2 separate regions of the Homo sapiens genome follow, and region 2 is linked to region 1. The links come from fine-mapping of genetic effects on gene expression. A gene starts in region 1. The other region holds a variant in brackets. All regions are shown on one strand. Distances are between the middles of the regions. Region 1 holds the start of ANKRD39 (ankyrin repeat domain 39). Region 2 overlaps ANKRD23 (ankyrin repeat domain 23).

The links.
Region 2: its variant is fine-mapped to the expression of ANKRD39 in skeletal muscle (GTEx, PIP 0.94).

What each region holds. Positions count from the first base shown.
Region 1 is chr2:96,856,907-96,859,700 of GRCh38, forward strand. It overlaps ANKRD39 (ankyrin repeat domain 39), which reads right to left and starts at 1,110. Exons shown (of 4, transcript NM_016466.6): 1 at 982-1,110. The coding sequence starts at 1,081. RefSeq lists silencers at 771-940, 971-1,640.
Region 2 is chr2:96,836,679-96,839,441 of GRCh38, forward strand. It overlaps ANKRD23 (ankyrin repeat domain 23), which reads right to left. Exons shown (of 9, transcript NM_144994.8): 9 at 1,234-2,763. It also overlaps a transcript of CNNM3 not described here. Among named protein-coding and RNA genes, the nearest start is that of ANKRD23, 6.0 kb to the right of the region's middle. RefSeq lists enhancers at 647-1,203, 1,204-1,758. The variant C/T (reference allele first, on the strand shown) is at 1,332.

The DNA of each region.
Region 1 (2,794 bases):
CCAGTGTGGCTGCGGCGTAGTGATTGGGGGAAGAAAAGCATGAGAAATAAAATGAGGAGGAGAAGTAGAACCGGCAGGGGTGGGTCTACAGAGCTTTGTAGGCCATAACAGGGAATGATGTGATTTCTAATTTTCAAAAAGCCGCTCTGGCTGCTATGTGAGAGTAGAAAACCCTGTAGGAAGGCAAGCGTGGAAGCAGAAAGACCCTCTGAGGCAACCACTTCAGCAGTGCAGAGGACAGCGGTAGGAGGGGCGGAGGGAAGTAGGCAGGTGCCAGAACCACGGTAAAGGAAGAGTTCCATGAGAATGCTTACACAGCAGTGGCAATCGAGGGCTGCATCCGCAAGGGCAGATGACACAGCACAGTGGTTCCCAACGCTCACAAGAAGCACCCTGGTTTCCCGCCTTCCTCTGTTCCTATTGGCACCATAATCTCTGTATAATCTGGGCCAAACGTGTTACCTCTCTGGGTCCCACAGATGAGATACTGTGCCCTGCCTCGAAGGCTGCCCGTGCGAAGCTCTTGCCATCTTTAAAGCATGCAGGCTGCCTGGCACCCGGGGCTAAACAAAGGCCACTGCTCTCCTTCACCGCGCAGCCCCCAGGCCTGCAGCTCCATGCCCCTCAGGTTGGGTGCAATGCCCCTGGTGCAGATTCTGCTCCCCGGGCCCTCTCTCAAACACCTGAGCAGGCTTGTGTCTCCCAGGGGAGGTCGTCCCCCGCTACTCGGGAGGGTTACGGAAACCAGTGCTTCCGCTTCCCCGCCGCCCGCGGGACAGGTGTCTCCTGGCCGAGCTCGTGCGGGGCCCTGGGAGGCTCTCAGTACACGGGAACCGTGGGTCCCGCCCGCCTTCCCGCACCAGGCCCCAAGCCCCAAGCCCCAAGCTCTCGGGGCCCCGTTCATCCGCCTCTCCTTGGCCCCACGCCTCCTCCTTGGGCCGGGGCCTGGTGAGAACCACGAGGGCCGCGCGGCAGCCTCACCCCTCTCGAAGTCCATCTCCTCCAGCGTCTGCTGTACGCCGAGCACCGCGCTGGGATGCGAGCAGCAGGGCCCGTCCGCGCAGGGCCGAGGCGTCGCCATCCCGGCCCCGGCGTCAGTCGATCCGCCCCGGGTCTCAGGCTCAGCCTCGGCGGGAGGGGCGGACGCAGGGCCCGCCCCGCGTCCCTGATCTGGCCGCTCGGCGTCCGCGGCTGTCGCCCTAGTCCCGCCTTCTCGCCAAAGCTGACCAATCAAACGCCTAGGCCTTAGCTCGAGAACCAATTGCAACGGTAGGGCGGGGCTTGTTGCGCCCGGCCGTGCCCCGAGGCCTCCGCGCGAGGGCGTCCAAGGCCAAGCGAGGACTGAGGCGCTGGGTTCCGGGAGCCGCGCGCCGCTGGAGGGCCGCCGGGCCGCCTGGCCTTGCAGGGTGTGGGGATGAGGCAGCTGGGTCCGGTCGGGAGCTTTCCCGTTACCTTCGCCATGACCCAGCCGTCCAGCGACCTCGCAGCCTCCTCTCTTTACCGCCCCTAGTCCCTAGGGCAGGGAGGCGCCACGCGCTCCGCGGTCTTTTTTTTTTTTTTTTTTTTTTTTGAGACGGAGTCTCGCTGTCACCCAGACTTGTGTGCAGTGGCGCGATCTCGGCTCACTGCAACCTCCGCCTCCCGGGTTCAAGCGATTCTCCTGCGTCAGACTCCTGAGTAGCTGGGACTACAGGCGCCCGCCACCACGCCCGGCTAATTTTTTGTATTTTTTAGTAGAGACGGGGTTTCGCCAGGATGGTCTCGATCTCTTGACCTCGTGATCCGCTCACCTTGGCCTCCCAAAGTGCTGGGATTACAGGCGTGAGCCATCGGGCCGGGGCGCGCTCCACGGTTTTTAGCCCCTCTTCCTGGCACCACCCCGGACCAAGGCCGACCGCCCCCGGGGCAGCGGCAAAGTGACGGCTGGAAAGGCCTCGAGACGCCCCTCCCCGTACCCTGCTCTTCCTTACAAGTCCAGCAAGGGGCAGGTGGCCACAACTTGTCCTGCCTGTAGCTCCACCTCAGGGCAGGGGCAGGGCCTTGGTTTGTGCAGAACCCCCTGGCCCCACAGTGGGCGCTGAGTTTACGGAATCGGTCTTCATGATCAAAACCCACCGGGAGGCCGTCTGCGGACCGCGCACCTTCGCAGCGTGCTCCTCAGCGGACCCCAGCCTTCTCAATTCCCAGTTAAAACCCAGGCAGCTGCCTGCTCAAGCCACGATCAAGTGTACAGGGGAGACCGCCTGATCGGCTTAGAAAGAGTGCATGAACGACAGAATGCAGGTTGGGTTCTGTGCCAGTCCCTCTCCAGGACAGTGGTCTGGTGCACACTGGATGTAAGTTCCTTCCCCCGCTAGTTGGGGCACGGAAGACCCTAGCATTCCTGGTGGGTAGAAGGCTGGAAGTCGTTTCTCCTCCCCTAAGCAGGTTGAGAACCCCATCCTCACACAAGCAATGATCTCATCTCCACAACCTTCCACTCCTTTGGCCCCTCATTCCCACTACCCGTCTTGAGTTCTGGGAAGGCACCCCCCCCACCACTCCGCTTCTCCCCTGGACTCCCAGTGCCCTGACTTCTCCTTCTGGCCAGAAGCCAAGGCTGGCTCCCAAGGGGCTATGGCCATGGTCTCGTTCCCAGCCCCGCAGCCACCACTGTGGGAAAACACTAGAGCTGGGCTGTCCCCTCCCACAGGCAGGCAGGGACCACAAAAGTGGTGGCTGCCCTGGGATTGTGGGGGAGGCCCAGTCCAGCCTCCCTCCACCCAGAGAGCCTTCCCTCTTGGTACCCAGAAAG
Region 2 (2,763 bases), 20 kb before region 1:
CATCTTTTCACCCTCTTAACAGGGTTTTATACAGAGCAAAAGTTTTCAGTTTTGATAAAGTCCACTTTACTGATATTTCCTTTATGGACTGTTGCTTTTAGTGTTGCATTTAAGAACAACTCTACCTAGTCTTAGATCCCAAAGGTTATCTGTTTTTTCCTAAAAGAAGTTTTATAGTTTTAAATTTAAGTATGCATGTGAGCCATGTTAATTTTTGTATAATGTGTAAGACTTAGGCTAAAGTTCTTTTTTTTTAATCCTATAGCTGGTCCAGCTGCTCCAGCACCGTTTGTTGAAAGGCTGTCCTTCCTCCATTGAATTACTTTTGCACCTTAAAGTCAGCTGGGCATATTTGTGTGGTCCTGTTCCCGTGATGATCTCGGCTCTGTCGATCTGTGTGTCTGTGCCTCTGCCAGCATTGCACTCTTGGTTCACATAGCTATATAGTAGATCTTGAAATCAGCTGGACTGATTCCTCCTCTCACTCTATTCTTTTTCAAAATATTTTTGCTATAAATTTGTATATGAATTTTAGAATAACCTTGTCTACATCTACAAAACATCTTCTAGGATTTTGATAGGAACTGCATTTAACCTGTATGTTAATTTGAGGAGAATTGATATCTTTACTGTATTCTGTCTAGCAATCCATGAACATGGCATGTCTATTTAAATCTTTGATTTCATCACGTTTTATAATTTTCAGCATACAAGTCCTTGCATATTTTGTTAGATTTAAACCGAAGTATTTCCCTTTTTCAGCAATTGTAAACAGTACATATTTTTAACTTTTGTGTCTACATGTTCATTTCTAGGAGGTAGAAACAGGTTTTTGTGTGTTTATCTTGCACCCGAGATTTTGCTGGACTCCCTAGTTGTCTGCTTTCTGTAGATTCCTAGGATTTCCCACATAGACAAGCATGGCCTCTGCATGAGAATACCTGGATCCTCCCCTCAGGGCTTCTGACTTAGGGTCTGGACATCAGGACTTTTTAAACCTTCCTGGTGATTCTGATAAGCAGCTGAGGTGGAGAACCACTGCTCTTTGACCTTGTCGTCAGTGAGCAGAGGTGCCTTAAGCACAAAAGCCTAGTGCCAGGACCCCGCATCCCGCCCACTCTGCACTCGGCCTATCTTGCTGTCGGCCGGCATGGCTAACAGGCGTGGGCCCTATCAGACAGTCCCTGGTGACTGAAGCATGGGCTCCTCTCGGCCCAGGAAAGACGGCTAGGCTGTAATGGATAGCCAGTTTTAATGAACAGAGGATACTGATTGGTATAAAAAGGTGTGTTTGTCACTGAGGTGTCCTCATTTTCTAGATGAGGAGTTGT[C/T]TTCTCCATGGTCTTGAACGCCTGCTTCGCCATGGCACCAGCGTCTGGGTGCACGCTGGCTGTCGCCACAGGGCAGGAGCTGCTCATGGAAAGGTGTGTGCCCCTAGTGTGCAGCACTGGTCAGCTTTTCCACATAGTAACAACAGCCTTGTTCTGGGCCTGAGAAGGCCCCCAAAGGTAGACGAAAAGGAACCATGGCCAAATGCCTATCAATCAGCCCGGTACCTAATGTAACCCAGGACCCATGTGAGGGAGGCTGAGCCTTCACCTTTCAGCCCTTCCCTCAGCATGTGGTTCTCAGTTTAGGGCAGAGCTTCTTAAGATTCACTTTCTGGCGTTTAGGGGCCCAGCCCCACCAGCAGTACAGGCCTACACCAGTGTAATTTGAAACGTACAGACGGTGGAAGAGGAAGTCTAGGGAGCTTGGGTCCTTAGACCACCAGGGAGCAGGGAAGGGATGGGAAGGGCTGGGGGGCGGCGGGGGCTCACCTTCCTCTGCTTCCCTGTGGGCTGGGTTCAGAGCTCCTCAGTGTCCTGGCCTCCCAGGTGGGATCAAGCAGGGTGGGTGCAGCTGCAGCGTTCCAGGCAAGAGCTCAAGCTCCAGTACCAGGAACATAAGGGGACATAAGGGCCTCAGGCAAACTAGGGTTACGGGCCACTGCCCCAAGAGTTGAGTGGGCCACAAGCAATCCCCAGTGCCCAGGCGCTTCCCCATGAGAGCCGCCAGCAGGCAACGGTGTGCCAGGCCGGCCTGAGCGGGGCCAGTACACAGTGGGTGCGAGGCTTCTCTCAAATGCGCGCTCCAGCTCATCAGTCTTAGGGCTTCTGAGGCAACCTAGTGGGTCCTGGACTTCTGTTGCTGTGGGGCCTCAAACCTGTTGAGTAGCCACCTCAGATGACCAGAACCCACCTCCAGAGTTCCTATGACCAAAGTTGTCTAGAGCCGCTCCGGACACTGCCAGGGTTGCTACTGACAGGAATGGGGTCCCCAGAGAAAGCCATGCCCACAGGCATCCACCAGCTGCAGACAGGCCCGGCCCCTGCATGGCCTGCCTTGGCTGCACCTTGTACATCCTGGATGGCATCTGCCGGCCACGGGCTGAGTCCCCACACACACAGACTGGCCCTGGAGAGAGCAAGGCAAGCCCCCTAACCTGGGACAAGTGGACACTGAGGACTCCCAGACCCAGCCCTGGGTGGCTCCAGCTTGGGACTGCTCCCTTAAGGCTCGTTCTTGGCCCTCACTCTCCTCCCCTTCCTGGCCCTCATCTGGACCCGCGCTTTCTGCTGCCTTGTGGTCCTCTGCTCCAGCCCTGGGAGGGAACGCGGCTCCCCTGACACTCGAAGCCAGGGAGGCCTCTCTCTTTGCCTGCTGGGCCCGGTGCCGCTCTTCAGTTCTGCCAGGGCTGCTGAGGCGGCACAGGCCAGAGAG